2 linked regions of the Homo sapiens genome follow. The protein of the gene in region 1 purifies or fractionates together with the protein of each later gene. This does not show direct contact. Each region holds a gene or a part of one and is shown on either strand. Other genes may lie near its edges.

Region 1 (3,979 bases):
GCGTGGCCCTGCAGCTGTTCCTGGGCCGCCGGGGCCTCCCGCTGCCCTTCCGCGCGCCCATCCGCACCGTAGGTGAGCCCCGGCCTCCGCCCCGCGATCCTGGCCCAGGGCCCGCTCCCTCCCCGTCCCGGGTTGGGGCCACCCAGACTGGCCTTTGGCCACCGCGCCAGCCCTGAACTCTGTTCCCGCCTATCCCCAAGGAGGAAAAGAGGAGGAGAACCGGGGATCCCAGCCCAGATCGCCTCCCGTCCCGCCCGCAGTGGGGTCGGCGATTCCCGTGCAGCAGAGCCCCCCGCCCAGTCCGGCCCAGGTGGACACGCTGCAAGCGCGCTACGTGGGGCGACTCACGCAGCTCTTCGAGGAGCACCAGGCGCGCTATGGTGTCCCCGCCGACAGACACCTGGTCCTCACGGAGGCGCGCCCCACCGCCTGGCCTCGCCTGTCCGCTGGGTGACTGCAGGTGGGGAAGTGAAATTAAAGACTGGCGGCAGGGCACGGTGGCTCACGCCTGTGATTCCAGCACTTTGGGAGGCCGAGGCGGGTGGATCACTTGAGGTCAGGAGTTCGAGACCAGCCTGGCCATCATGGTGAAACCCCATCTCTATTAAAAATCCAAAAAAAAAAAAAAAAAAAATTAGCCAGACGTGGTGGCGCGCCTGTAATCCTAGCTACTCGGGAGGCTGAGGCAGGAGAATCGTTTGAACCCGGGAGGCGGAGGTTGCAGTGAGCCGAGATCGTGCCACTGCTCTCCAGCCTGGGTGACCGAGACGTGTGAAAAAAAAAGAAAAAAAAGAAAAGAAAAGAAAAAGAAAAAAATTAAAGTGGGAAACAGACCTGCAGCCTGTGTGTGTTTGTGCATGGCGGGGGAGGTCCAGGCAGGGGTGGTGACCTTGACATTCCTGGAGATGCCCCGGACCAGGCCCTGCCCCCACCCCGACTGGAGGTCAAATAGTCTCAGCAGGGCTTCTGGCCCCTTCCAGCACCTGGGACCCAGTGGGTGGGGCTAGCCAGATCACTCTTGTCCACTCCAACATCAATTCCTGAGGCACTCGGGTGTCACCTCTCCCTTGCACACCCCTTACGCCTCCCAGCCCCACCCAGCAGCCAGCCCAGACTGGTGACTGACAGGAAGTTCAAAGATCAGGCTGAGAAAAAACCCAGAGACATCTGGGGCTCTGGATCCAAAGATCTCCCCACTCACACACCTACGGACACACGCTACTCTGGGAGGTGATTTGCGACTTAGCCAGGCCCCCAAAGCTGGGCTCCTGTAGGGAGAAAGTCTGCCCAGGTCCACATCCAAGCCTTCATCGTTTGTCCTCCGGGTTCTGGGATCCTGCTGGAAGAGGGGAGCTTCTGCAATGGGAGTTGCCACAACCCTGCAGCCCCCAACCACTTCCAAAACCTTGCAGAAGCAGCATCTAGAAGCAGTGGGCGCCTACCAATATGTGCTCACTTTCCTCTTCATGGGTGAGAGCTGGGGAGGCGTGGGTGCCTGGGGTCTGCCAGGGGAGTAGGGCTTGGAGGGAGAGTGGCTGGGCTGCTGGCTTGCATGCCTGAGGACAGTGACCAGGTGACTGGTCTGGGAGAGGGCCAGAGGAGAGAGCTGGTTGTTCTGAAGGGGAGGAAGGGAAGGGAGCAGCTGGAGGGAATGATGGAGTTTCAGAAGTGAACTCTTTTCTTTCTCTCCCTTCCCCCAGGCCCTTTCTTCTCCCTTCTTGTCTTTGTCCTCCTCTTCACGTCACTCTGGCCCTTCTCTGTTTTTTACTTGGTGTGGCTCTATGTGGACTGGGACACACCCAACCAAGGTGAGCTCCGGATGGGGGCCCAGGTAGCCAGAGATGGTGGGGACATGGGGGGTGAGGGGAGGTGACTCCGGGGGTTCGTCCACCAGTATCTCATTGTCCGCAGGTGGAAGGCGTTCGGAGTGGATAAGGAACCGGGCAATTTGGAGACAACTAAGGGATTATTATCCTGTCAAGGTGATGGGTCACCCTGCAGAAAAACTGCTTCCTACCTCTCCCCATCTCCCTCCCACACCTAGGAGCCCTTCCTTGTGCTGGGGCCTGAGCTCCCCGCTGCCTAAGCTCAGGCAGTGGGACAGGGAATGGATTTTTTTTTTTTTTTAGACTGAGTCTCCTGTCACCGAGGCTGGAGTGCAGTGGTGCAATCTCAGCTCATTGCAACCTCCGCCTCCTAGGTTCAAGCTATTCTCATGCCTCAGCCTCCCTAGTAGCTGGGATTATAGGTGCCCGCCACCATGCCTGGCTAATTTTTGTAGTTTAGTAGAGACAGGGTTTCAACATGTTGGCCAGGCTGGTCTCAAACTCCTGGCCTCAAGTGATCCAGCCACCTCGGCCTCCCAAAGTGCTGGGATTACAGCCTTGAGCCACCGCGCCCGGCCTGGGAGTGGATGATGTTCAAGAGCGGGGCCTTGGTGGGGCACCATGGCTCATGCCTGTAATCCAAGCACTTTGGGAGGCCGAGGTGGGAGGATTGCTTGAGCCCAGGAGTTGGAGGCTGTAGTGAGCCATGATTGCGCCACTGTACTCCAGCCTGAGCAACAGAGTGAGACCGTCTCTAAAAAAAAAAAAAAAAAAAGGCGGTTGTGGTGGCTCAAGCCTTTAATCCCAGCACTTTGGGAGGCTGAGGTGGGTGGATCACCTAAGGTCAGGAGTTCGAGACCAGCCTGACCAACATGGAGAAACCCCATCTCTACTAAAAATACCAAACAAATTAGCCGGACATGGTGGCACATGCCTGTAATCCCAGCTACTCTGGAGGCTGAGGCAGGAGAATTGCTTGAACCAGGGAGGCGGAGGTTGTGGTGAGCTGAGATGATGCCATTGCACTCCAGCCTAGGCAACAGGAGCAAAACTCTGCCTCAAAAAAAGAAAAGAAAAAAAGAGAGAGTGGGTGAGGTGGCTTACGCCTGTAATCCCAGCACTGTGGGAGGCCAAGGCAGGCAGATCACGAGGTCAGGAGTTCAAGACCAACCTGGCCAATATGGTGAAACTGCGTCTCTACTAAAAATACAAAAATTAGCTGGGCATAGTTTCGCATGCCTGTAATCCCAGCTACTCGGGAGGCTGAGGCAGGAGGATAGCTTGAACCGGGACCAAGAGGCGGAGGTTGCAGTGAGCCGAGATCGTGCCACTGCACTTCAGCCTGGGCTACAGAGCAAGACTCCATCTCAAAAAAAAAAAAAAAAAAAACCTGGGCCCTTAACCCTATCCTAAGAACCTTTAACTCGGAACTCTGCTGGGGTGGCCCTTGACCCTATCCTAAGAACCTTTAACTCGGAACTCTGTTGGGGTGGAGGGCCCCTCTTTTCAGCCGGTGTCTTGCCTTCCATCCTCCCTTCATCCTGCTCAACACCCCGAAGCTGGTGAAAACAGCAGAGCTGCCCCCGGATCGGAACTACGTGCTGGGCGCCCACCCTCATGGGATCATGTGTACAGGCTTCCTCTGTAATTTCTCCACCGAGAGCAATGGCTTCTCCCAGCTCTTCCCGGGGCTCCGGCCCTGGTTAGCCGTGCTGGCTGGCCTCTTCTACCTCCCGGTCTATCGCGACTACATCATGTCCTTTGGTGAGCCGAATGGGAGGAGGAGAACGGGAGGAGACTCCTGACCAGATGTTCCCCAGCCCCTCTGGGACCACCCCCCCCCATAATAAGTCCCCCACCCAGGACAGGGGCCAGCCTGAGCACTGCCCAGACTTGCAGTGAGCATTTGGGTAGGTTCCCCGCCTTGGAGATGGGGGTAGGGGGCTTGGAACTAAAGGCTGGGTGAGGGGCGGGGGTGCCGTGGAGGCAGATGGGAACTACTTTCCACCTCCTCCTGCCCACAGGACTCTGTCCGGTGAGCCGCCAGAGCCTGGACTTCATCCTGTCCCAGCCCCAGCTCGGGCAGGCCGTGGTCATCATGGTGGGGGGTGCGCACGAGGCCCTGTATTCAGTCCCCGGGGAGCACTGCCTTA
Region 2 (2,576 bases), on another chromosome or scaffold:
TTCCCCTAAAAACAACAATGAAGTGTTCTGGGTGCTAACAACATAGCTTAAAAAGAAAAGTAAAACAAAATTCTGCATTTTTATAAAACTTGATAAAAAATAGTTTTTCAAACTGTACAGTCACCAGAAGTACACAGTTATCAAAAATGCACACACTACACTTGGCATCTGCAGCACCTTCAGCTTTCTGTGCCTTCCCTGTTTTGGCATCTCTATTTTCTGCAGAGTTATTCCCCTCCTTGCCAGCATCAGCTTTTCCCTTTTTCCCTTTGGGTACCTTCTCTCCCTTCTTTGCAGGGGCATTTTTAGGCTTGGCCTCTGGATTTGGAGGAGCAGGTTTAGCAGACAACTTTGCGGGCCTTCTCTGTGGTTCGTCCTTCACCTTGGCTTATCTCCTTCAGCATCCCCTTCAGCCTTTCTCCTGGGCATGGTGGTGGCCACCCCAGCGGGATATAGGCACTGGATGCAGGATGCAGCATTGTGCGGGTTTTGGTCAGTCTGGGGGCTGTTCTTGCCTCTTCTTCACACTGCTCTGTCTTTCTTAACCTTTGATATATTCTTGGCCATCATTTCTTCAAGTATATTCTCACCCTTATTTTCCTTTTGGAATTCCTATTCATCCATCGTTGGAAGTTATGAATCTCACTTCAATATCTCACGATATCTCATCTAATTTTTTATACTTTCTATCCCTTCATTGCTTTTTAAAATTTTGGTGTTGCATCTGGAAGAATTTCTTGCTTTGCTCTGCCAGCTCATGGTTACATTTTCAGTGTTGTCCCTTCTGGAAATCATCCTTTTATAGCATTTCCTGAAATTTCAATCTTTACTCTTTTAATTCCCAAGCTCTCTGGTTTGTTCTTTTTTTATTTTTTAATGACTGTTTGTCCTCGTTCCACAAACTTCAGTTTAATTCAGTTTGATTCAACTCAATCCAATTCAATTAAGCGCATGTATGGGTACTTCCTGGCCTCTAGCACTGCGTAGATGCTTGAGATATAGCTGTGCACAGAATGGCAAAGAACCCTGACCATGTGGGGCTTGGATTCTAGTGAAAGGAGAGAAATGGCAAACAATAAATGTAATAGTAGGCAAATTTGTGCTATGTTAGAGGTCTTTACCTCTCCTAGAAAAATAAAAATGGTTACAGCAGGATAGATAGACCAGCAGTACCAGGAACACAGGCGGCGTCAGGCTGCAGTGGTGAATAGTGCAATAGGCATCATTGCCTAGGTGAGATGTTAGCAGGGAGTAGAAAGAGCTAGGGAAGTTAGTTAGCAGGTGTCTAGTGAGGGCACGTCCCAGGACCAGTGAGGACCGGTGTGCAGGAGTGAATTGAGGAATGAGTCCAGAGAGATAAAGGCAGACATGAAAGTCTTGTCCTTTGCAAGGACTCAGCCTTGCAATCTGAGTGAAATGGGAAATATTAGAATGTTTTGAACAGAGGAATGGCGTGAAGGGGCTTAGGTCTAAAAAGGATCTCTCTGGAGATCTTAGACTGTGGCGGGCAAAGGTGAAAGTCCTTCAGGAGACTTTGAGGTGGTCTAGGTGTGATTTGATGGGCCAGGAGATAGCAGCAGAGGTGGGGAGCAGTGAGTCAGATTCTGGTAGTATTTTAAGTGGAGGAAACAGGATTGTGAGTGTGATCAATAAAGTCAGGACTGAGAATGACATTTGCTACTTTGTCCTGTCAGCTAAGTCACCCTTATGTTGTGCGTTTGTTCTCAGATGGGGACTAAGAATTGACTGTTGCGTTTGGCAATGTGTGGGTCTTTGGGGACCTTGGCAGGAGCAGTGTTGGTGCTGTAGTGGGGGCAAAAGCCTGGATGGAGTAAGTTTAAAGGGAGGAATTACAAGAAAGGGATCAGAGACAGCAGATATGGACAGCGATTGCAGGAAGTTTTCTGCAAAGTGGAACTGGTGGCGGTGGTGGGTAAGCAAAGTAGTTATTTTGTTTAAGATGGTAGAAATGACAGCAAATATGCTGATGGGAATGACTAAGAAGAGCAAGCAAAATTGATGGAGCACAAGAGAGCAGGGAGAACGGCTAGAGGGATGTCCTTAAGTTGCAAGTGCAGATAGGACCTTTCACCCAGTCCTCCTCAAGCAGGGAGGTGCAGATATGGGTGCCATGTGCTGGGAGCCCATGTTATGGTGTGGTTTGTACAAGTTGTCTTCTAATTACTTCAATTTTCTCAGTGGGTAGGAAGTTGAAGGTGATGATGGAGGAGGTATGGGAGTTTCAAAGGAGGAAGCATTCTTCCATTTATTAAACAGCAAATCTCTGTTGAGTAGAATGCTGGGGGCTTTCCTCTGTGTTGAGGAATACAGTGATGAACAAGTCTAACAATCATTCTGGGATTGATGAATAAATACGCTAAGTTTAGATAGCAGTTGGTACTAATGAAGAAAATAACTCAGGAATATGATCGCAATGAGTAGGAGGGAGGATTCCAAACCGATTTTGGCTGGGATGGAATGTTCAGTAAAGTTCTCCCCAAGGAGGAGACCCAGGTGATGGGGAGCAGCTGGCCTTGGGAAGATGTGGGGCTGGTGTGAGGTGCAGGGAGAGTAAG

What was found. Proteins that work in one complex are often made in the same cells at the same time.
Region 2: the proteins of MOGAT3 (region 1) and IL36G purify together in Homo sapiens (affinity purification with mass spectrometry; one large-scale study listed by BioGRID and IntAct). This does not show direct contact.

Annotation. Positions count from the first base shown.
Region 1 is NC_000007.14:101,198,237-101,202,215, reverse strand, and holds the start of MOGAT3 (2-acylglycerol O-acyltransferase 3), read left to right. Parts: upstream 1-1,179; 5' UTR 1,180-1,361; coding exon 1,362-1,470; intron 1,471-1,700; coding exon 1,701-1,808; intron 1,809-1,911; coding exon 1,912-1,982; intron 1,983-3,385; coding exon 3,386-3,590; intron 3,591-3,850; coding exon 3,851-3,979. UniProt on the Homo sapiens protein: Catalyzes the formation of diacylglycerol from 2-monoacylglycerol and fatty acyl-CoA. Also able to catalyze the terminal step in triacylglycerol synthesis by using diacylglycerol and fatty acyl-CoA as substrates.
Region 2 is NC_000002.12:112,981,006-112,983,581, forward strand, and holds part of IL36G (interleukin-36 gamma), read left to right. Parts: exon of another isoform or gene 1-538; intron 539-2,576. UniProt on the Homo sapiens protein: Cytokine that binds to and signals through the IL1RL2/IL-36R receptor which in turn activates NF-kappa-B and MAPK signaling pathways in target cells.